Linked DNA regions of Homo sapiens. The protein of the gene in region 4 purifies or fractionates together with the protein of the main gene of each other region. This does not show direct contact. Each region holds a gene or a part of one and is shown on either strand. Other genes may lie near its edges.

Region 1 (3,500 bases), about 28 Mb from region 4:
GTTTCTTATTCTATCAACTGTTGGCTTGCAAAATTTATGCATATTACGACTGTGTAAATATTTAGGGCCAATGTAATGCAAATGATTACATTTTCTTTCTTATAGCATCTTTTTTTTTTCTGGAGGTTTTTTGTTTTGTTTTGATTTTTGAGACAGAGTCTCTGTTGCCCAGGCTGGAGTGCAGTGGTATGATCTCGGCTCACTGCAACCTCTGCCTCCCGGGCTCAAGCGACTCTTATGCCTCAGCCTCCTGAGTAGCTGGGATTACAGGCATACGCTACCACACCTAGCTAATTTTTGTATTTTTAGTAGAGACGAGGTTCGCCATGTTGGCTGGGCTGGTCTTGAACTCCTAGCCTCAAGTGATCCGCCTGCCTCAGCCTCCCAAAGTGTTGAGATTATAGGTGTGAGTTACCACACCTGGCCCTGGAGTTTCTTTAATTGCCTCTTTTTTTCTTGCATGTGTGTCTTTATCATGCCCCTATATTATTCCTGTTCCTTAAGCATAATATCAAATCTGTAAACTTTCTTTTGTCTTAGACCCTTCTCTTTTGCAGTCCTCTGTCTTCTTGTTTTTTCTACTCTGACTGATTGCTTTTCTGGCTTCTGCACATCATTCCATACAGCCTCCCTATTTCTTGTTATTGGTATATTTTTCCTTGCATTGCTCTTTTTGTGGTTGCAATAGCTTCTTGAATCTCTGAGGATATGAATGATTCGTTTTTTTGTTTCTGCACTTTGAATTTAATTATCGGATATTTTTTGGTGATGATTGCATATCTATGCATATAATTTTTTAATTGAGATGTATACCATGCATACAGTAAAGTGCAGCTCGTTTCTGTTTAAGAAAGAGGTAACAGAAAAGTTGATTAGGACTTCTGTATACATAGGCAAGGCTGTCGACTATCAGGTTTCTGCTTTAGGGAAGGGGGTTTATCTTTACATGGAAGACCTCTTGAAGAGCCTATCTGGTCTTAGAGGGCAGATTGGTTTCTAGCTTGGCTGCAGCCTTCCGGTAAGTATTATGGGCTGTAATTTACATTGCCCTGCTTCATCAGTCAGCAGTCCTCCATTTGTTTGTCCTCATTCAGAAATTTGTTGAAATTAACAGTGGCTTCTGTTCACTGTTTTTATGGGTTCAGAGCCCCATGTTTGTTCTTGCTACTTGATTATATGCAGTTCTGCCTAGAGTCAGAGGATTGGACCATATGATTTCTCAGGAATACGAAAACAATTTGTACAGTATGACCAGTACTTTACCGGAACAAAAGGAGGCAGATGTGTGTCAGAGAATCTTCTATGAAATACCTGTTCCTAATTGGCCTTCCTTGTTTTTTTTCAGTTTAGTGCTGCTTCATGTAGTTTCTGTTGATAAATAATTTAATAGAAAGGCTGTTAACAGCAAGAAGTTAGCTAGTCCTGGGTTCTATTCCTGGTTCTGCTAGCTCACTTGATTCAGATATTTAATGTTTCTCTTCATTGGAGAAATGTTAAAGTCTTTTTGTTGGATCTTGATATGTTAACATTGTTTTTATTACCACTGTCACCACACGTCACAACTTGTTTTTCTTTTCTTTTTACGTTAACATATCTTACTAGCCGTCTACTTAGTATTAATGTAGATAATTTTCAGAGAGATTTTGGTAGCATAAGAGTAAGGTGGTTTTGTTCTCTTCACTAGTGTACATAGCCATCTTTTCCACAAGACTGCCATTGTCTTATGACCTACCTCTCTGACAAAGCTGTAAACAGTAATACAAAAATTATATCTTATTCTGAAGTTCAGAGACTTTCTAGCCCTGGAATTACTAGAAAGTGTTCTCAAAGCATCTAGATTCCTCAAGGCTGTTAGTCATCTATTGTGACTAATGGAAAGGTTCTCCATAATCTTCTGGAAAAGACTTCTGATGGCTTTCACTTCTTCCTTTGACTAAGCGTGCTTTGATGGGAGTATGACAGGATGTGAGGAATGAACTTTCCCAGGAAACTTAAGGTCACCCTTCAGGAATCCTGTCTTATCTAGTGCTGTCATTTCAGATTACCCAGATTTACCTTAGAACTTTTCCTGTAACTGTTTCAGCCATGAAGGTTTTCAGTTTGACAGAGTTGCCAAGCCAAACAGTTAATTGGACCAGGAGAGGCAATGATTGCCTGTTTGCACTAACTCATCCATGGGACAGGAATCAGCAGCATAAGAATTGTAATGAACTTTCTGTATAGCTTTGGGAAGCAACAAGCTGTTGAGCAAATAAATAGCACTGAAAAAGCAATCCTATGGTGCTATTTTTTTGTTCAATAACTTTTGCCTATTTCTTTCAGGAGTAAACAAACTCCTGGTCCTTTTCAGTTTTAAAAAGGAGAGAGGTTGAGGCACTAGGTTAAGACCAGGAGTTCTTCACTTCCTGGTCTTCTGGTTATTTTCTGTTTACTATTTCTGATTTTTATATATTAGAATAAAATATTGGTTTGTGTGTCATTTCTTAAAGACAAAAAACATATTTTTCCTATTAGGAAAACCATATTTGTTTACTATATATAATTATAGAACAAGTTAAACAAAAAATGGGGTACCCCGCTTTCCCCATCTTCTGTTTCACTCTCTCAGATATGCAGTGGACATAATCTGGTAGACATCATTTTATATCATTGTTTATATAGTGTTCTATACAAAGATGTATTTTTTTATAAAAATGAAATCATTCCACAAATGCTATTTATTTACTTTGTTTTATCCTCTACTTTTTTTTTTCTTACTAGTAATATCATGGACATTGATCCACATTATAAAGAAAAATTTATGTCATCTTTAGTTTCTGGTTTATAGACATAACGTGATTACTTGATAACTTACTGAATTTGTAACTTTATCCCTTATTATAGGACCTTAAAGTTGTTTCTACTCTTTTTCCAAATGGTGGTATAAGGAGTATCCTTGCAACTAAATCTTTGAACTCTAGTTGAAGTGAACATTTTTTCATAACAGTTATGCTTATTAGCCATTTGGGAATTGCTCACTCATGTCCTCTGCACCTTTTTCCAATATGTTATCTTTTCCACATTGTTGTTTTAAAGTCTTTTGTAATTGAGATGTTAACCCTTCTTTTAGTTAGCATTTATTTTCCTAGTTTGTTGTCCTTTAGATTTCTTCTGCTTTCTTGATGCACAGAAGTTTAGATTTTTGTATCAGCTTTTCTCAGTCAGTGTTTTTCCTCAGTGGCACACTTAGAAAATTGTGCTTCACCTAAAGTTATATAAAATTCACTATTTTTTTTTTTTTTACTTCTATGGCAATGATTTTGTTTTATTTGTTTTTTGGGGGGTGGTGGGGAAATGGAGTCTTGACTTGTCGCCCAGGCTGGAGTGCAAATGGCGCAATCTCAGCTCACTGCAACCTCTGCCTCCTGGGTTCAAGTGATTCTCCTGCCTCAGCCTCCAGAGTAGCTGGGATTACAGACATGCACCACCATGCCCGGCTAATTTTTGTATTTTTAGTAGAA
Region 2 (3,249 bases), on a different chromosome or scaffold from region 4:
GGCCTCCTAAAGTGTTGGGATTACAGGTGTGAGCCACTACGCCAGCCCCTTTTCTTCTTTTTTTACTGCTGTGATTTACTTTTTCCACATTCAACATCCCCTAGTCTTTTCTGGTGACTTCCAAGTGACATAGGAACCCCCTAAGGGGCACAGTCTATGTGCTCAACAACAGTATGCTGGTCAAAAAAGGTTAAATGCTGTTGCAATTTTAAACTTTCCACCGTTCGTCAATCAGAATTAAGTGACATATAATGTTTGCTTCCCGCAACACCCTTCTTTTTATGGTGAAGATAACTTAAGCATATTCATTAAAAAGGCTAAAGTCACACGTTCACACATTAAAAGTCACTTTGAGACATTCAATGATCTGATGGTGGACTTACGTTTTCTCCTTTAAAAGGAAGGGGTTGTCTGCTGTTGTGATTTTAACTGATACATCTCACTCTAGTCAAGGTGTTTAGCAGGAACTGTTAACAATGAAACTGAGAAAAACACAAACATGAACAAATGACCTTTTATTTCATACAGAGATACAAAGGCAACTATGTGCAGCAACAATCTGACGGGCAGTCCAAACTCTTGGGAGGAAGTAAATTCATGGTAAATGTCATGATGGCTGGTCGAGGAGAAGGTCAAAGGAGGAGAGAGAGGAGACAGAGAATGCTACAGCTAATAAATAACAGTAATGAGAACTGTGTGGTTTCAACGCCATGAGTTTGTTGGGGCATCCTCTGTGCTACTAAAGCCACAATTCTATATCATCATCATCAACATTCTTGAAGCGCATTTTACACTATTCTGCATTAGCAATTGTGTTGAGGGAACTATAAACCTTAAAATTACTGACACATTTTATTAAAGGAGCTGTAAACTCTGCTCATTATTGCCTGTCTTGGATGTGGCCTTTGGGATTCATAGCCTCTTTTAAGGAAACAGGGTTGACACACTTTGGTTGGTCCCAGTTTTTGAGGCAATGCTAGTTGTAATAGCATCATCTTTTAATCTGAGGAAAATGTTTCTTTAAAAAACCTGTCTTCCAAAATACAACAAAAAACAAGGTCTGGGTAGTGGCGAATCCTTCCATGGCACTCCATGCCTCCCTGTGGGCTGTAACCATGCACCTGAGTAAAGAGTCTCATAAAAATACTTCTCCAATGCATTTATAATAGGGACACACTACATAGTTTGTTATTCATTAAAGCAGTTTATTGGCTTAATGTACATCAGTGAATTTTTAAATGCTAAAAATTTATGATAAAAGAATACTGAATCAAAACATCAAAGAAAGAAAATAGAGGCTCAGCAGCATGATTTCAATATATTTTCCTGGAAAAAGTTTTTTTTTTTTTTAAAGTGTATGACTTTTTATCCAAGAACAAAAGCTTTCTAAATGCAATGTTTAGACTTGATTTTTTTTTTAAACTAAGCCCAGAAAACTGGGGCTCATAAAATAAAGGCACAATGTGGGCAGCAAGAGAAAAAAGGAGAAAAAATGGGGAAAAAATTGGTTTTAATCTCACGTGTAACATAGGTTGGCTGGTTTTGTTTTTGTTTTAGACAATTAAAGGCAGAATTATCTCCCTGAACACTGCAGATAAATCCTAGTGTTTTAGCTATAAGTTTCAAGAGTTCAGATATACAGATAAAGCAATTTAAAAAAAGCTTTTCTTATTCTAAGGCTTTTGATGCATTATATAAATCTTTAAAATTCCTATCACCCACATTTTAAGACATACATCTATACTTTAATAAGGCACTCTTAAGATATAAAACAGTTTTAAAAACAATGACATTCTACATTAGGGCTAACCCATTCCTCTGCCATAGGGATGGAGTGAATTGTCTCTCTGAATCAAGTCAATCTCTGTGCACCAACAAAAACAGGCAGGTGCCTTGACCCATTCTGAATTTATCTGAGTAGCTGAATTTTAGCAATGGGACTCTCCCATCCACTAGTCGGGGAGTTACACAAACAGAATTGCCCAAGTTTGATAATGAAATTTAAAAACATTATCTCCTTTTTTCTAGAAATGCTTCCTTTGAACATGACTGTCACTTCCATTAGCTCCTGTCCATAAAGAAAAACACAATGGAAGATAACCAATGATTCCCCATATCCTTCAGTTTTCCTGATGGGACAGAAATATAAAGGAACTTTATTTTTAAATGACAACCTAATAACTGTTAATAACATGACATTTTAGTTGTGTGTCTTGTATGTATTTATGTCATTGGTGCTAATAGCTTCCACTTCTAAATGACACACATTTGAATCCTACCATCCCTATTGCTAATTAAACAAACACCAAAGCTTACAATATAGTACTGCAACCTCTAAGACTGTAACAACACAGAGAAATTTTAGTGGAGTTTCCACTCTTTCCTAAGTAATGGAAGAAAATGAAGAAACCAGAAAGGTCAGACTAAGCCTGAAACACAATTTCACTATGAAAAAAGGGTAACAAATGTCCCATCAGAGCGAGAGGAGTTAAAAATGTGGCATCGGGAGTGTATCAGATTGAGGTGCTGTTGTTGGCTAGGTCTTTGCTTCCAATGAGGAAAGAAGGACCTAGAAAGGAGCTGTGAGGTGCTTCTTTCCTTCATCCTTCTGGGCTGGCAGCAAACGATCAATTACTTCCCGTAGAACTTTTTGTTGAGAAGGAAGATCAGGAGGTTGACATTTACTTTAGCTCTATCAAATAATTTCATGACTGCAACTCCTTCATACTGTAGCTGCAGCAGGTCCTATTAACAAAACAAAACAAAACAAAACAAAACATTTTGACAGTTAATCAAGTCTGTGGAACAAGGAAAAAGGACACAATGTAGGGAGGGATCCAGATGGACTGAGGCCTGCCTTGTGTGCCAGATGTGAACTGGGGCGAAAGAAAAGTTCCACGCTAGGCAACTACCCACTGCACAACCAGCCTGAGAGCTGGAGCAATAGGGCACATTGGCCAAGGGAGGCTTCTGGTTGATTTGGAGTTAGGAAGTCATGTTGTTCATATCAAAATTCATCATACATGGAAAGAAAAAGAAACATGTTCAATTGCCACACACATCTAAGCTTTTTATTTCAGAAGTCACAATGACATTTTCCCATTTCATCCATGTTATGGGTCACTAGTTTTAATAAATCTGGAAAAGGTGAAGCATTTAAACCTATGATGAAATATACTAAGCACGGGGAAATGAGATAAGGCTAGTAATGTCACCTTAATACTATCTGATAGATTCTTAATTTCTATT
Region 3 (3,500 bases), on a different chromosome or scaffold from region 4:
AATGGAAAGCAAGCTATGCTAGAATGTCATGGCAGCCACAACTTTTCTAGGAAATACCAATGCTTGAGGGTGTGCAACGTGACCCGTTAATGAATACAGACTCAGAAGTCCTGTCCTGTCCCCTGACCACTGACCACCTTAACTTTTCAGAAACATAGGCAGATTTCAGGCTTTCTTACGGATGATCTACTTGGCTGGTGACTTGGTTTCACTAGTGGGAATCTTTCCTAAGTTTTTAGATCACAGGTGAAATTTATCAATCCTTCAGGCTTCGTGAGGGAGCTCACACCTCATATAGCCAAAAAAAAATGAACAAACAAATAACTGAAAGGATATTGCCAACAAAAACTGACACTGTATATAAATCACTTGACTTGTTGAAAATATAATCCTCTCCTAGGGTTTGCAAAGTTCTTGCCCTCACCCAACATACCCAGGAAGAAATGACACCGCATCCTGTTTCTTGCACTTAACCATGTGATACCCTGAAACATAGCTTGGACTTACCCAGCCTGGCCTCCAGCCTCCTGCCACCCACTCAACTCCGGCTCCTAGCCACGAGTAAGAAGTGCCCGCAGGTATCTCACCAGATGCCTGGACTACTGAGATTTCTAGTCTTAATGATTTAGGTAGCTTTCTGAGTTTGTGGGTAATGTGCACCAATTTTGAAAAGCAACCCTTTCCTAACAGCTTCCAATATAAGATGATCCTGGCAGAAGGCAGGAAACACACACCGCTGCTGTTTTCAATCATAAAATCCCAAAATGAACAGGCTTCCAACACAGGTAGATGGTAAATCAACATTCCTCTAAACATGTGTCTGCCTACATAAAAAAGAGAAATTGTTCTGAAACAAGAATGTACCATAAAGGTAGGCCCAGAGAAGAAGTCGAACCAAACGTACCATGAATCTTAAATAGTCACCCAACTGTGCCCCTGTGAGCACCACGGACACCCTTTCAAGGCACATACCATCTACATTGTAGACTTTCAGCCCGGCCATATGCTTGGCTGCTCGGAATTTGGAGGCTGTTAGGAGGTTTGGGTTATAGATGGTGAAATCTTTGTAGTAATTTTCTAGGACCACCAATGCTGCTCGCTGGATACTGAGAAAAAAAGAACAAAATTAATGCAAAGCTTTTTCACTGAAGAAGCAGGTCCTAAACGAAAAATCCTCTTTTGGAGTCAGGTAAAGGAACACAACATCAAAGATAATCTCATACAGAAGTCCACTGGGTTCCACCACACTTCTGGTCTCCAGGATGAGAACTTAAAGCTGAAACTAAGCCCCATGGCCAGGTGACTTCTGTGCCCTCTCCTGGACCTGTGATTAGCCACATCCCATCTAGCCCTTTGTTGAAAGAGGAAGAAGTTGTAACTCATAACTTACATTTAGCTTTAGGCACACAAGAACTTTTTCTATTTTTCCTCGGTTTACAAAAGAAGAAACTGAGGATGCCCCCAAAAGGGCAAGAGACTTACTAATGGTTGCAGAGCTAATGAGTGAAAGAACAAAGTATAGATTCAGGTTTCTCAGGTCCTCATTCAGGGTTTTGTCCCCTAGGCCTTGGTATCCCTGGGTATAAGGAATCCTGGAACTTAGGTTTTATACAGACCAGAACAACTGCAGCCATCCAGGGCAGAGCGTACTTAAGAGGGCCTTGGCCACGCGCGGTGGCTCACGCCTGTAATCCCAGCACTTTGGGAGGCTGAGGTGGGCAGATCACCTGAGGTCAGGAGTTTGAGACCAGCCTAACCAATATGATGAAACCCCGTCTCTACTAAAAATACAAAAATTACCGGGGTGTAGTGGCATGCACCTGTAATCCCAGCTACTCGGGAGGCTGAAACGGGAGAATCACTTGAACCCAGGAGGCGGAGGTTGCAGTGAGCCGAGACTGCACCACTGCACTCCAGCCTGGGCAACAAGAGTGAAATTCAGTCTCAAAAAAAAAAACAAAAAAAACAACAAAAAAAAGAGAGCCTCCGCTGAGACCACTTGATCTTTCTGGGTCCCCCTGCCCCTTGGAGTGCTATCTCTGGCCTTTGGCAGAGGGGTATGAAGGTGACTATCTATGTTCCGATATTCTAGGTCTCCAACTATCCCCTGCTTGGTCCTCAGAGAGCAGCAGGGGAACAAAGAACAGGTACCATCAACAAGTGGGAGAGAGGATGTGGGAGGGTACTTATAATTGGAAATGAGTATAGACAGCAAAAGAATATGCCCTTGGTCTATGGTGCAGAACACTTGCCACTTTGAAGAACACCTTGCAATGATACAGCAAGGGTTTGCACATACCTGATTCTCATTTAACCCTCACAATCATTCGAGGTAAGAAAACTGAGGCTCAAAAATCTATGACCTGCACAACAGTATGCATTTAATAAACAGGAGAGCTGGAACTCTGATATGATTTACAAACCTCCAAGTTGGGCTTCCCGGTAACATGCGGACTCTGTGTAACAGCGTACGTGCTGACATCTCCAACCACCACCATGTTAAATACCACAGATATATTTTTATCTTGCCCTTTGGATTTTCCTTTCTAGTACTCTGCTAAGCAGATCGGCTTACAAGGATTATTTGCAGTAGCCAGAGCACCAGGATGGGGCTCCCTTTGATTCCTGGATGACCACACTGTGTTCCAACACTCTCCAGGTGGCTCAGGGATCCTCACTTCACACCAAGACAAGGGAGCTCCTAAACTATCCACTGGAAATTCTGTCTACCCACCCATTTGGCTCCCCTTGGAGCTCTGCTTCAAGACTTGAACAGAATTGAATATGGAAGTCAGTCAGCTAACCTGCTTAAGAGCAGAATCATGGTAAAACTTTCTGAGTTATATCCCCAACAGTGCCCGCATTCAGTTGGTACTTAATATCGTCCTAGATAATGTACAGTCATGTGAGGCTGGGGAACACTATCAGGGGAAATCCGGTGAGACCAACTTTGCATAATGGAAGTAAACCTAAGACTCCTAACAGCAAATCTGCATTTTGAAAATTCTGACCATTCAGTTACTCAGTTGTTCACTCGTCATTCCATATTTGAGTGCCTGTGTCTGCTAAGCCCTGGGAATATGAAGATAGACCTTAGCTGGTACCTGGAGCATGAACCCCATGACAGTGAGTATGTTCTCATGCTGGAACACGTGGGGCTGAGTAACCACGGAGAAGAGCTTCTGGCTGCCTGGGACAGGGTGCAGCCTTCCTGAGGAGGCGGACTTCCGTGGAGGTTTGTGTGTCACGAGAGCTCTTCCTGCAGAAGTCTAGTCTGCTTGCCCTGAAGGTCTCACCTGGCAATCTCCAAGTCAATGTGGCTCCAACTCCGTCCTTGCCCCCTGTCCATGGCATTCTCCAGAGAGGGGCAAGTGTTTCTTTATTCCTACCCCATCCAGAGATTCATTGCAACCCTCTCCCTGATCTCTCTCTCTCTCTCTCTCACATACACACACACACACACACACACACACACACACACACACTCCCTGGTGTGTGCC
Region 4 (3,338 bases):
GAAAGTATAAGAGTAGAGGCTTTGATGAGGACCAAAGCCTTTTTTGGAAGGTTTTTTTTTTTTTTTTTTTTGAGCCGCCCAGGCTGGAATGCAGTGGCGCGATCTCGACTTACTGCAACCACTGTCTCCCGGGTTCAAGCGACTCTCCCATCTCAGCCTCCTGAGTAGCTGGGATTATAGACACCCACCATCATGCCCGGCTAATTTTTGTATTTTAGTAGAGATGGGGTTTCACCATGCTGGCCAGGCTGGTCTTGAACTCCTGACCTCAGGTGATCCGCCCGCCTCAGCCTCCCAAAGTGCTGGGATTACAGGTGTGAGCCACCGTGCCTGACCTTTTTGGAAGGTTTGTAAGGAACAGGGGTGGGGTTGAGAGGAGGCCACCAGCCAGTCTCATTAGATAGGTATCTCAGGCAGCCGCATCAGCGTGCGGGATTGCTTTTGAAACTGGACTAAGAGGTTTGAGTCAGACTCAAGGAAGTCTTTGGAGCAGCACTGTGCCCCTGAGGGTGCGTTAGGGAGAGGAGAAATAAGGAAAGGGGATTGAGTTTGGAGATTTCTTAGGTGTCGGAGTGAGTTCTTTCAATGTAAGAGAAGACCTGAACAGGGCAGGAGAAAGTCAACATCCTGGAGCCAGGTGAAGATTGGGAGAAAGTTTGATGGGGGTCGGGGTGGGGATGGTTGGTCCAGCTCACTGACCTCTACCTTGTCGCTTGGCAGGGTGGTGAAGGAAGAAATTTCAGATGACAACGCCCGCCTCCCCTGCTTCAACGGAAGGGTGGTATCCTGGGTAAGAGGTTCTGACACCGAGGACCAGGCCCCCTCAGCATTGCCAAGCTCCCTCAAGCCTCAGTCTGTTTCTGTATCCTCCCCAGGCCGCGCGTTAGCAGCCCTGGCTCTTTACCTCCTGTCTGTTTGGAGAGCCGGCGAGAGGCCCTCAGCCTTCTCCTTCTGGAGTCTCTAATACTTGCTAGGTTTTTTTGCTCTTCTCCAGCTCTCTGAGACCCTTTCTCATTCTTTCACTTACTGCCACCTGTCACACCCTGACTCCCAAGTGAGCCACTGTTTATCATTTGCACCCTTCTAGCTGGTGTCCTCAGATAATCCCCAACCCGAGATGGCCCCTCCAGTCCATGAGCCTCGGGCAGAACTGGCGCCTCCAGCCCCACCTTTACCTCCTTTGCCACCCGAGAGGACCAGCGGCATTGGGGACTCAAGGCCTCCATCCTTCCAGTGAGTCCTTCAGATTCTTGACTGCAGGGGAGGGAGGTGAGGAGGGAACCCAGGCCTTTGGTAGGGGACGCCTAGGATCCGGAGCCCTGTTCTCCTGATGTGGGTTGGAAACCATCTCTGCCTGTCCAGCCCTAATGTGTCCAGCAGCCATGAGAATCTGGAGCCTGAGACAGAAACCGAGTCAGTAGTGTCACTGAGGCGGGAGCGGCCTCGCAGGAGAGACAGCAGTGAGCATGGCGGTGAGGGGCAGGCCTGGGGGCCGGGAAGGGCTGGGCCAGACCCCAGCCTTGGTGGGGTGAGCAGGGGGAAGCTTGGTTCTTGAGCTTCCTGTCCATATGTAGCTGGGGGCCACAGGACTGGTGGCCCCTCAAGGCTGGAGCGCCACCTGGCCGGATACGAGAGCTCCTCTACCCTCATGACCAGCGAGCTGGAGAGTACCAGCCTGGGGGACTCGGACGAGGAGGACACCATGAGCAGGTGTGGCTCCGCACAGCTCTCCCCAGCGCACCCAGCCCCGTCTCGTCTTCCAGTCAATCCTCTTGTTCTTTCTCTTGGCCCCATGACCACTTTGGCCTACGTTTGCTCTCCTTCCCAACCTCCTGGTAGGTTCAGCAGCTCCACGGAGCAGAGCAGTGCCTCCCGCCTCCTTAAGCGCCACCGGCGGCGAAGGAAGCAGAGGCCACCCCGCCTGGAGAGGGTGAGGGGTTCCTACAGGAAGGCTGGTGCTGGGAGAAGGTGGGGCATGGGCTTTGGTTTGGGCGGTGCCAGGACACCGGCAGCACCCCAGGGTTGACCCTGGGTTATTGAAGGGCACTCTGGCTCCTTTTCCCACCACAGACGTCATCCTTCAGCAGCGTCACAGATTCCACAATGTCTCTCAATATCATCACAGTCACGCTAAACATGGGTATGGGGAGAGCCTGTGGCTAGGGCGTGGGGAGGGCCTGGTCTCTAGGGTTCCGGGCGTCCTGTGGCAGGGGCTCCTCTTTTCACATGGCCTCTCTCCACAGAGAAGTACAACTTCCTGGGTATCTCCATTGTTGGCCAGAGCAATGAGCGGGGAGACGGAGGCATCTACATTGGCTCCATCATGAAGGGTGGGGCTGTGGCGGCCGACGGGCGCATTGAGCCAGGGGACATGCTTTTGCAGGTGTGCTGGGGTAGGGCCACTGAGCTGCCCTGCACGGGGGCCCTCAGCCTCTCCCACCGTGTCTCTGACCCACTTGCCGTCGCTTCCAGGTGAATGACATGAACTTTGAGAACATGAGCAACGATGACGCTGTGCGGGTGCTGAGGGACATTGTGCACAAGCCTGGGTGAGTTGCCAAGCAGGTTGCCGGTCCTCAGTCCTCTTTTTTTTTCTCTTTCATGTTTTGTTTTGGAATTTTAATAAGTACTAAGACAGCCGGGCGTGGTGGCTCGAGCCTGTAAACCCAGCACTTTGGGAGGCCCAGATGGGTGGATCACCTGAGGTGAGGAGTTCGAGACCAGCCTGACCAATGTGGTGAAACCGTGTCTCTACTAAAAATAGAAAAATTAAGTGGGCATGGTGGCACATGCCTGTAGTCCCAGCTAGTGAGGTGGCTGAGACAGGAGAATCACTTGAACCCTGGGGGGTGGAGGTTGCAGTGAAACGAGATCACGCCACTGCACTCCAGCCTGGGCGACAGAGCAAGACTCCGTCTCAAAAAAAAAAAAAAGTGCTAAGACATAACGTTCAAAGTACATGAAACAAATGCATGACATAGCAAATAATACTAGAGTAAATATCCATGTCACTGCCATCTAGATCATCAAATAGGAGATTGCTGATACCCTAGAACTTCCTCCTCAGATGTCCCTTCCTGCTCCCAAATGCCTCACTGCCCCAGGGGTAGTCACTCTCCTGACTTCTTTGGCCATCACCATAACAAAGAAAAGCTTTGCCTCACTGGATAGTTACCACCCTTGCACGTATCCTTGAACACTGCAGTTTCGTTTTACCTGTTTTTGGACTTTCTGTGAATGGAACTGTACAGCGTGTACTCTCTTGTCTCACTTGGCAGTATGTTTTTAAGAGTTTTCCATGTTGATGAGTCATCCACATTGTGGTGCCTTCCACCCTC
Region 5 (4,126 bases), about 75 Mb from region 4:
GAAATGTTGGGGCCATCAGAGCCCAGGAGGACCAGCCGAGGGAGGAGCAGCTGACAGGTGGGCAGGTGCCCCTAGTCAGGGACAGCAGGACTCCCCAGGAAGAAGGATCACAGCCACCCGTGGGAGAGCTGGACTCTGTTCATCAACAGAAAAGCCGTGAGCGATTCCGCCAACAAGGTCAGTTTTACTAGTCTGGCAGCCCCCCACCCCCGGCTTCTGTAACTCAGAAACTGGGCAGTTCCGACTGCCCATCCCTCATTAGTGACTGATGGTGGTCTGGCCGGCGGCATCTCCTGTCTCCAGGCCCTGCTATGTAATTTCGGGAATGGACGCCCGTCTCCCCGACCTGACCTCCAGCTGTTTGGAGCTGAGGGGTGGAGAGGAAAGACTGGGGGGTGGAGAAAGGCGAGCACCACTGTGGGGCCTGTGGGGGCTGCTTTCCTCTTCTGCAGTGACCTGGACGGGCTGAGGCTGCTGTCTCACTCACACGGCGGTGCCCACACCACAGCCCTGGTATGCTAATGCGTCAAAACACACCTTCACCTGTTTCACATTCTTGAGTTTCAGCGAGGATGCGACAGGTCTCGAGACACATGGACGTGGGACCATGGGGACGGGTTCTTCAAGGTCCCCATGCACCTGCAGCCTGGGGGGGCTTGTCTGAAGGGCTTTCTTCCCAGTGATGGGAATCAAAGGCCCCGATCTTTGAAGCTGGCCATCAGCCTGAACGTCCACTCCTTGTTTCCTTTGCAAGGAGGAACATTCAGATCCAACACAGATAAGAATGTTGACTCCGTCTCCAGGCCGCAGGGACTGGAGGGAGGCAGGTGGTCTGGCCTCATTTTGTGAAAGGTGGTGGCTTTGTCCTCAATCTTCAGGCTGGACATCAGGACCTCCCAGGGCGCGGGCCTGCTCTGTCTCTGGCCTTAGGTGTCAGGAGGTAAGGCCGCAGACGCTGACGTACTGGGATGCCCCAAGCCCGGGAACTGGCAGCCCAGTGAGGGGGTCTCACCTGTGTCCCCTGAGCCTGGCCTGTCACTCTGTCCACGCCTCAGCTACCTGTCCCCTCCTGCAAAGGGCACCGCCTGTCGCGAGGAACTCACCTGGCTTCCTCGACATCTCGGGGGACACACGAAAAGCCCCCGCGAGAGCAGCAGGAGCCTGCACGTGGAAGGGGCTGGCGGCCCGAGGTCCCGGGGTAACAGGAGGGCAGAGGGGCTGGGCACGGCGCAGGGTCGGGAGGAGGCCTGGAGCGCTCGCCCCGCCCGGCCCCGCCCCTGGAGCGCCGCGGCCCCGCCCCGCCGGGTTGCTAGGGGAAGTGACGTCACAGCGCGATGGCGGCGGCTCCTTTAGGCAGCTGAAAGGGGATTTAGGCCCGGAAGATCCGAGTCCATCCGCGGCGGGGAGAGGGCAAGCGGGACCGGTAGGGGCCGGAGCAGCGGCGGCGGCGCTCGGACTGTCCCATCCGCCCCGTATTGAGGCGCTGGGAGCGGCGGGGCGACAGGAAAGCGATGGTGAAAGCGGGGCCGTGAGGGGGGCGGAGCCGGGAGCCGGACCCGCAGTAGCGGCAGCAGCGGCGCCGCCTCCCAGAGTTCAGACCCAGGAAGCGGCCGGGAGGGCAGGAGCGAATCGGGCCGCCGCCGCCATGGAGCTGAGAGTCGGGAACAGGTACCGGCTGGGCCGGAAGATCGGCAGCGGCTCCTTCGGAGACATCTATCTCGGTGAGGCCCCGCCGCCCCCGCCCGCCGCCCGAAGACCCGGGCCCTGCGGCTGCCAAGACCAAGCGCGATCGCGGAAGGAAGTGGTGGCCCCCGCGGGGTCTCCGCGCAAGTCCCGGCACCGCCGGATCGTGGCCAGAACCCAACGGCCACTAGGCTAGCGCGGCCAGGGGTGGGGAGGGCAGTGGGGAGCGGACGTGGGGGAGGGGCAGGACCAGGTCGGGGGAGCAGGGTCTGGAGAGGGGAGGGTTGGGGAAGGAGGGGATAGGGGAGCTGACCCGGGGTGGGGCATGGTCTCTGGGGAGCCGACCTGGGTAGGGGCAGGGTCGTGGGGAGCGGACTCGGGAAGGGCTGGGTGGGGCGTGGGGAGGCGGGCCTGGGGGAGGGGCAGGGCGGGGGTGGGGGCAGCGGGCCGTGGGAGGGGAGGGGGTAGGGCTGGGGCCGCGAAGCGGGCGTCGGCTTCCTCTACGCCTAAGGTCACCGCAGTAAACAAAGGCCACGCTCTTTCTTCCGCAGCCCGGTCCGGGGCTGTCTGGCTGCCCCCTCAGAGGCTGCCCCGGTGTCTTGCATTCGTGGGGGAAAATGTCAGAAAGACCCAAATGCCGTGTGGAGCGGGGGAGTGGCCCGGCTAGGAGTGGGGCTTGCCCTCCCGCTGGGGGTTCTCTCTGAACGGTTCCCCTTGGCCTTGGAGCGGTGACTGAGTGCAAATGAGCAAGGGTTAAGTTTAGGTGAATGTAGAGAAAGTCACACAGGATTAAGATGCTGGCAAGATGAGAGGCAGATGAGGTAGTTGTACTCATGAGGTGTCCTTTAGACTGTAACAGTCTCAAGGTAGATTTCAAAAACAATGGGATTAGAAGGTTTTGGGTTGTGTCATATTTACAATGGAAAAATATGCACGTGAACACAAGTGTGATGAAAGGTTGGCTTAAATCTTCAAGTTTGTAATTTTTTTTTTTTTCCTGAGACGGAGTTTCGCTCTTGTTGCCCAGGTTGGAGTGCAATGGCGTGATCTCGGCTCACCGCAACCTCTGCCTCCCAGGTTCAAGCGATTCTCCTGCCTCAGCCTCCCGAAAAGCTGGGATCACAGGCGTGCGCCACCACGCCTGGCTAATTTCGTATTTTTAGTAGAGACGGGGTTTCTTCATGTTGGTCAAGGCTGGTCTCGAACTCCGGACCTCAAGTGATCCGCCCAGTTCGGCCTCCCGAAGTGCTGGGAAGCCACCGCGCCTGGCCCAAGTTTGTAATTTTAAAGTAACTTAATTTTCCGCACTTGTTAGTGGGATTGTGCAATGCACGAGTTATTCCAAGATCCCCTGAATTTGAGGATATGTAGCCTGAGGCGGTGTGCCTGCAGAGGGGCTGCTGCAGACCTTTGAGGGGAGCTGTTTTCTGTTCCAGCAGCCCTAGCTTTGGGGTGTGTTTTAACTGGGGCACCTGTCAGCTAGGGTCAGGAATCCCCTGGGATGTCAGTAATGCCTCTGGTCATACCTTTTAGATGAAGCCACATGTGGACAGTCTCCAGTTCTCACACCCTTCCCACTTGTCACCAGAGAGAGGACTCAGGACCCGGTGGGCTGACAGCGTTAGGACGAATCCACACATATGGGTGGCTCATACTTTCGGTGCCTGGTTAACCTGCCAGGTGACCCTGTCACATGCCATATTGTTGCTTTTGAACCTGTACATATGCCTTAGTGGACTGCTGAGTAAGCAGGCTTTAGACATTTGGGTTTGGCTATTAAACATTTATACCAGGTGGTCAGCTGGATGTGTTCTTGGCAGTGTTTGGGAAGTCAGAGTGCTTGGTCAATGGAAGTCGTTTGGCTTATTTATAGAACAATGGATTTTGGCGAAAGTTTTAACCCCAGGATCTGAGTTACACTGCAAAGCCAGTCCATTAGCCACCTTTAGGCAGGCATCAAAAAGGAGTATTTTGGGCCGGGTGTGGTGGCTCACGCCTGTAATCCCAGCACTTTGGGAAGCTGAGGTGGGCGGGTCGCTTGAGGTCAGGAGACCAGCCTGGCCAAAGTGGCGAAACCCCATCTCTACTAAAAATACAAAAATTGGCCAGGCGTGGTGGTGGCTGCCTGTAATTCCAGCTACTTGGGAGGCTGAGGCACGAGAATTGCTTGAACCTGGGAGGCGGAGGTTGCAGTGAGCCAAGATCACACCACTGCACTGCAGCCTGGGCGATGGAGTGAGACTCTGTCTCAAAAAATAAATAAATAAGAAGTACTTTGAAACTATCTGTTCTCTGATCTGAGACCTTGTCAAACAACTTTGTGCTTTCCAAAGATAGATTAAGACAAATTTTGGTGTGGTTGTCACCAAGTAATTCCAGAGGTGGAGGGTGGAAGGCTGTCTCCTCACTCAGCATTCTACCCTCCAGGCCTCACCTCGCGCTG
Region 6 (3,500 bases), on a different chromosome or scaffold from region 4:
CCTTGGCCTCCCAAAGTGCTGGGATTACAGGCGTGAGCCACCACGCCCAGCCTTTTAATTATCATTCTAAGACAGGGTCTCTGTCGCCCAGGCTGGAGTGCAGGGGCGATCACAGCTCACTGTTGCCTCGACCTCTGGAGCTCAAGCAATCCTCCTGCCTCAGCCGCCTGAGTAGCTGGGACTGCAGGGGCACAGTGGAATACCTGTCTAATTTTTTTGTAATTTTAGTAGAGATGGAGTTTCCTCACGTTGCCCAGACTGGGCTCAAACTTCTGAGCTAAAGAGATTTGCCTCCCTTGACGTTCTGAAGTGCTGGGATTACAGATGTGAGCCCCCGTGCCCGGTCAGGCTTTCTTTTCTTTTTCTTTTTTTTTTTTTTAAGGCAGAATTTTACTCTGTTGCCCACGCTGGAGTGCAGCGGTGCAATTTCAGCTCACTACAACCTCTGCCTCCCAGGTTTCAGTGATTCTCGTGCCTCAGCCTCCCACGTAGCTGGGACTACAGGTGCGCCACCACGCCTGGCTAATTTTTGTATTTTTAGTAGAGACGGGGTCTCACCATGTTGGCCAGGATGGTCTCAAACTCCTTACCTCGTGTGATCTGCCCGCCTCAGCCTCCCAAAATCCAGGTTACATTCGTGAGCCACCGCCCCTGGCCCTGGTCAGGCTTTTGAGAGTAGATCCATGAAAGTGTCGCCATGTCCCTGCTCCCTGCAGGAGGGAGGCCTGTGGGACTTTCTGCTGTGGCTGTTTACAAGGCTTTGCTCCTGGTGCCTAAGGCTGGAACCTTCTCTCTGCAGGAGAAGATAAGCGAGGACCTCAGGGCCACACTGAACGCCTTCCTGTACCGCACGGGCCAGCACAGCAACAAGTGAGGGAGCCCCTCGGGTCCTGGGCCCCCGGGCAGGGCTGTGCAGCCGTCGCCCTTGGTTCCCACCGAGGGACCTGAGGGGCCCTGGCTCACAGTGCTGGGCAGCTGCCGTGGCCTCAACATGCCCACCTCGGATGTCCCCTGGGAACGGCCCAGCTCGGGACAGCACGGGGTGTCACTGAGGAACATGCGGGGGCCTCCCGGGCAGAGCTGGGGTCAGTCCTGTCCTCACGGCCCTGTGCGCCGCCGCCCCAGCTTGCAGGTCCCTCTGCCCCTAGGTTTCTGCGGTCCTGTGCCTGCAAGGGAGGTGGTCTCATCGTGTGAGGCTCTGCTGGGTCTCCCTTGGAGGGTGTGTGTGCCCTGGGGTGGGAGATGGAGACAAGTTTGCTCCCACGGGAAGTTGGACACCAGCAGGTCCTGTGTGTCGGGGCGGAACCTGGGACCTTGGTCCCCCGCCCGGATGCTGGCCAAGGGTGCACCCTCCAGGCTTGGGGCCCACCCGACTTTGTGTGGCCTCTGTGGGCTGCCGCCCAGAGGTCCCCCATAGGGTGACCGCCCCATGGCCAGGCTCCCTAGTCCCTCCCAAGTCCCCTAATTTTGAGTTTTCTTGGTCTCCTGGGCCCCTCCAGCCCCAGTCACGTGTCACACGGAGGATCAAGTCCTGCTGGTCGGCCGTGGCTGACTCCTCAGGCACGTTGGGCTCCCAGGTCAGCTGCTGCCGGTGGATGCTCCCTGGAGCCCTGACTCGGGTCCTTCCCAGAGAGGCAAGGCTGGGGCCCTGCTGAGCCTCCAGTGAACCCGGGCCCCTGAGGTCCTGCTCCTGGCACGTGTGGGCGACTTCTCGACATGGACTCCGGGTCCCGAATCCCTGCTCCCAGCACAGCAGGGGTCAGGCAGCAGGAGAGAGTGGTGTTCCCGGCACTGCCTATCAGGCTGGGCGAGGGTCAGCGGGAAAGCACTATATGGAGGGAGAACAGAGGCCCAGGAAGCCAGGCCGGGGGACAGCTGGGTGCAGTGGGGCAGGTGGCCGACCAGGGCTGTGCCCGTGTCCTCGTGTTTCCCGCCACTTTAGGTTCTCCCTGTGGGGGCTGAGGAGGCCCCGTTCCCCTTGGTGCAGCTCGGCCGGCAGCCCCAGCATCCTCATCCTCATCCCCGCCCCGCAGGTTCATGCTGGTCCTGGCCAGCAACCAACCAGAGCAGTTCGACTGGGCCATCAATGACCGCATCAATGAGATGGTCCACTTCGACCTGCCAGGGCAGGAGGAACGGGAGCGCCTGGTGAGAATGTATTTTGACAAGTATGTTCTTAAGCCGGCCACAGAAGGAAAGCAGTAAGTGTCCCGCCCCACCAGCCCCCGTCCAGGGGCCCTCGCTCAGGGTCCACCCCGACCCACAGTCCACCATCACTTACAAACCTTTAACATTCCTTTTTTTTTTTTTTTTTTGAGACAAAGTCTCATTCTTGTCGCCCAGGCTGGAGTGCAGTGACACGATCTCAGCTGACTGCAACCTCTGCCTCCCGGGTTCAAACAATCCTCTTGCCTCAGCCTCCTGAGTAGCTGAGATTACAGGCGCCCACCACCATGCCTGGCTAATTTTTTTTTAATTTTTAGTAGAAATGGGGTTTTACCATGTTGGCCAGGTTCGTCTCAAACTCCTGACCTCAAGTGATTCACTCTCCTCAGCCTCCCAAAGTGCAGGGATTACAGATGTGAGCCACCGCGCCCGGCGTCTTTTCCATTCCTCTTCACTACGAGGAGGGCTGTGAGGAAATCTTGTGCTCGGCCACCCCCAGGCCCTGGCTGTGAGGGGAGGTGATACGGAGTGTTGCTCTGAGACCCCCGTGTCGGGATTCGAAGGAGTCTCTCCTCATGAGACCCCCGTGTCGGGACTGGAGGGAGAGGCTCCTCATGGTCCACTGCTGGCTTCTGGCCTGGCCTCCCTCCAGCTGCCACACCCGGCCCTGGAGCCTCGTGGTGTGGGGCACGGCTCTTGCTGCTCACGTGCCTTGAGGCTGTCAGGCTCCCTGTTGCTGGCGGTGGGTGCAGCAGGCACGGTGGGCAGAGCCCTCCAGGTGATGAGGGGCCCTGGCACCACACACCGGCTGCCTCGGGAACACTCCAGATGAGCAGAGGCTGCTCCACTTCTTGGCGTCCCCCGGGCCCCGGTTTCTGAGTCCTTCTGTGCACCTGACCCAAATCCCTGCTGTCGCCAGTGATGACAAAAGAGAGCCTGGTTGCCGCTGCCGCCTGCTCCATGCCAGCCCAGCTTTCCGGGCCTCAGTTTCCCTATGCCCTCCCCTTCCCTGGGCTCCCCCACCCCCATGGCTGCTCGTAGCCCTGGCACCATGACTTGGCTTCTGTGGCCTCCAGGCAGACGCTTTTGCTAGAAGTCGGGGCTCCGCCACTGCCAGCATAAAGGCCACCTGCCCTGCGGGTGCTGAGTGAGCAGCTGTGGGCAGGGCTGGTGTGAGGAGTGGTTGGGGCCATCTCCAGGCCCTGCAGCCACTCCCTGCTCAGTCCGGGCCTGGCCTGCAGCAGGGAGGATGTGGAGCTGGGCTGTCAGAAGTAGAGAGCCCCTCCAAAGAGGATGTTTGGCGTGGGTGTCGGCCTCGCTGCCTGTCTTCCGGC
Region 7 (2,407 bases), on a different chromosome or scaffold from region 4:
ACCCACCACCACGCCTGGCTAATTTTTGTATTTTTAGTAGAGATGGTTTCACCATGCTGGCCAGGCTGGTCTTGAACTCCTGACCTCAGGTGATCCTCCCGCCTCAGCCTTCCAAAGTGCTGGGATTACAAGCATGAGCCACCGCACCCGGCCTCACAGTGACAGATTCTGAGAAACAGCATGCAAAACATTTGAACCATTTTCTACATCTCCCATTGTTGCATAGAGAGTGTGCACCGCTGCTATCTTGCCAGATCCACACTGGTCCTCCCGAAAGCCAGGTTCATACACAGCAACTTTTTAATTATTCTAACAGTTACCCATTAACAGTCGACTCCTGTATTTCTGAGAGTCTTGTACTCACCTCTGAAATTTAAAAACGTATAAAGAGAGCCTGGGTTAATCAGTTCTGCAGCCCCTACGTGACACTGTGCTAGTTCTCCTTCTTCTGTCTCCTCCTTACCCTGGCCCTGCACCCCTGTACTTAAGAGGGAGAGGTGGGAGGTGCTGTCTGGTATCATTTGCTGCCTCGCCAGTAGAGGGTGCCGCTGTGCAGGGTAACTGCCCGCCTGCTCCCTTCCTGACCTCCCCTGACCCCGAAGATCACTACCTCTGTCATTCAGGCATTGGGGTACATCCTGATAAGTCGTGTCAGAACTGCCAATTTCAGGACTGAGATGTGTTTTTAAAAAACAAATCCTTATAAACTCCACTTTGTACTTTAGATTTTAAAACTGGGGAAAAATGTGATATTCTTTGGACCACTTTTTTAATTTATATAAGCCTTAATGAACAGTGTCTATACATTTGCATACACACACCCCCACCCCAGAGTGTTCTCAGTATGTCAGAGAAAGTGCCACAGCATTAGGACGGGAGCTTGGAGAACGTTTTCTAGAAAAGGGTTAGCTTCCTGTTGGCATGAAATTTTCCAAGCAAACCTCATTAAACATCTGTTGTTTGTTAAAGATGTTCCACTGAAAGCAACGCATGTTTCAAAGGCACGTCTTTCCGTTCGTTGGTTTTCTGTGTGTAAGGAGTAGCATTGCTGTTGGCGCCTAACCTCGCGTGCACTGCATTCTCAACCCCGTACCAGTGCATCATCAGAAGCCTTCCTCGTGACCATAACTCTGTGTCTGCAGATATGTGTTCCCGTGTAAGCCAGTTTTCCCCTTTTACTCAGACTGATTTCACCTAGATTGTCACGGTTTCCTTCATGTTAACTTTGCGTGACTTTGTTCTTCCTTTACTACTCTGTATGTAATATATATACATATATACGTACATATGCTGTCCAAATATATTTGTATATATTTGTATAGCATTTTTACACCTTTATTGAGTAATCTGGTTTCGAAAGGAGGTGAGAGTTTAGTCCCTTCTGCAGTTTTCTCCAAGCTGTGTCCTGTGAATTTCAACCCTTGGAGCCTAAGAAAACCCTAGGAAGATGATGTTAATTTGCTGTCATTTCCTAATTCAGGATCTATCATCAAATGAAACATGAAAAAAACAGTGACTTTTAAGGTGAAAAGAGTTTCAAGCATTCCAAATAAATTATCAATGTTTCATAACTTTTTATTATAAACCCACCTCCTAATAGGAAGCCAAGTACTATTTGATACAGTGGTAAAAACCAAACTACCTTGAATTTTTTTAAGGCAACTTATGAATAATGCTCATTTTCACAGTCAGAATAGCTTTAAAATATGGTTGAATTTGATACACACAGGAAGTTTTCTTGAAGAACAATCCTTTCGCTTTTCTTTTTTCTTGAGAGATCTAAAGAGAAACTGTAGATTGTTTTCCTGACAGCAAAAGACTAATGTGACAAAATGAAGTCATTGTAAAGAAGCGATGCAACTTGTCAAATATTTAATAAAGAATTATGGAAGCTGGAACATTTTCTACATCAAGTGTTATGGGTTGTTTGATTTAAAGCTTCTTTGTGAATGCACCATCTTAATTGTTGTCAGAGGGGTTTAAATGCCTGCAGATTTATAGTATGTTCATTTCCTTCATCTCCCTAAAAGCGCCGCACTTTTAAAAACATTAAAGTCTGGCAGGGCACAGTGGCTCACGCCTGTAATCCCAGCACTTTGGGAGGCTGAGGTGGGCAGATCACTGAGGTTAGGCATTCAAGACCAGCCTGACCAACATGGTGAAACCCCATCTCTACTAAAAATACAAAAAATATATATATATATTAGCCAGACGTGGTGGCGCATGCCTGTAATGCCAGCTACTCAGGAGGCTGAGGCAGGAGAATCGCTTGAACCCGGGAGGCAGAGGTTTCAGTGAGCTGAGATTGTGCCATTGCATGCACTCCAGCCTGGGTGACAGAGCGAGATTCCGTTTCAAAAAAAAAAAAAAAGTCTGCCCAAAACACATGGCTTAAGCCTACTAAAAG

Evidence for each region.
Region 1: the proteins of DVL2 (region 4) and AP2B1 purify together in Homo sapiens (affinity purification with mass spectrometry, with the first as the bait; 2 studies listed by BioGRID). This does not show direct contact.
Region 2: the proteins of DVL2 (region 4) and IQGAP1 purify together in Homo sapiens (affinity purification with western blotting; 3 studies listed by BioGRID, with this or other methods). This does not show direct contact.
Region 3: the proteins of DVL2 (region 4) and VANGL1 purify together in Homo sapiens (affinity purification with mass spectrometry; 4 studies listed by BioGRID and IntAct, with this or other methods). This does not show direct contact.
Region 5: the proteins of DVL2 (region 4) and CSNK1D purify together in Homo sapiens (affinity purification with mass spectrometry; 3 studies listed by BioGRID and IntAct, with this or other methods). This does not show direct contact.
Region 6: the proteins of DVL2 (region 4) and ATAD3A purify together in Homo sapiens (affinity purification with mass spectrometry, with the first as the bait; 2 studies listed by BioGRID). This does not show direct contact.
Region 7: the proteins of DVL2 (region 4) and NEDD4L purify together in Homo sapiens (affinity purification with mass spectrometry; 4 studies listed by BioGRID and IntAct, with this or other methods). This does not show direct contact.

Annotation. Positions count from the first base shown.
Region 1 is NC_000017.11:35,628,822-35,632,321, forward strand, and holds part of AP2B1 (AP-2 complex subunit beta), read left to right. Parts: intron 1-3,500. UniProt on the Homo sapiens protein: Component of the adaptor protein complex 2 (AP-2). Adaptor protein complexes function in protein transport via transport vesicles in different membrane traffic pathways.
Region 2 is NC_000015.10:90,499,491-90,502,739, reverse strand, and holds the end of IQGAP1 (ras GTPase-activating-like protein IQGAP1), read right to left. Parts: intron 2,746-3,249; coding exon 2,632-2,745; 3' UTR 501-2,631; downstream 1-500. UniProt on the Homo sapiens protein: Plays a crucial role in regulating the dynamics and assembly of the actin cytoskeleton.
Region 3 is NC_000001.11:115,679,970-115,683,469, reverse strand, and holds part of VANGL1 (vang-like protein 1), read right to left. Parts: intron 1,107-3,500; coding exon 973-1,106; intron 1-972.
Region 4 is NC_000017.11:7,228,180-7,231,517, reverse strand, and holds part of DVL2 (segment polarity protein dishevelled homolog DVL-2), read left to right. Parts: intron 1-323; exon of another isoform or gene 324-637; intron 638-720; coding exon 721-790; intron 791-1,087; coding exon 1,088-1,233; intron 1,234-1,362; coding exon 1,363-1,472; intron 1,473-1,574; coding exon 1,575-1,710; intron 1,711-1,839; coding exon 1,840-1,930; exon of another isoform or gene 1,931-1,968; intron 1,969-2,070; coding exon 2,071-2,140; intron 2,141-2,243; coding exon 2,244-2,383; intron 2,384-2,472; coding exon 2,473-2,549; intron 2,550-3,338.
Region 5 is NC_000017.11:82,270,901-82,275,026, reverse strand, and holds the start of CSNK1D (casein kinase I isoform delta), read left to right. Parts: upstream 1-1,326; 5' UTR 1,327-1,645; coding exon 1,646-1,721; intron 1,722-2,924; exon of another isoform or gene 2,925-4,126. UniProt on the Homo sapiens protein: Essential serine/threonine-protein kinase that regulates diverse cellular growth and survival processes including Wnt signaling, DNA repair and circadian rhythms. It can phosphorylate a large number of proteins.
Region 6 is NC_000001.11:1,525,662-1,529,161, forward strand, and holds part of ATAD3A (ATPase family AAA domain-containing protein 3A), read left to right. Parts: intron 1-799; coding exon 800-870; intron 871-1,499; coding exon of another isoform or gene 1,500-1,614; exon of another isoform or gene 1,615-2,021; intron 2,022-2,033; coding exon 2,034-2,201; intron 2,202-3,500. UniProt on the Homo sapiens protein: Essential for mitochondrial network organization, mitochondrial metabolism and cell growth at organism and cellular level. May play an important role in mitochondrial protein synthesis. May also participate in mitochondrial DNA replication.
Region 7 is NC_000018.10:58,399,633-58,402,039, forward strand, and holds the end of NEDD4L (E3 ubiquitin-protein ligase NEDD4-like), read left to right. Parts: 3' UTR 1-1,907; downstream 1,908-2,407. UniProt on the Homo sapiens protein: E3 ubiquitin-protein ligase that mediates the polyubiquitination of lysine and cysteine residues on target proteins and is thereby implicated in the regulation of various signaling pathways including autophagy, innate immunity or DNA repair.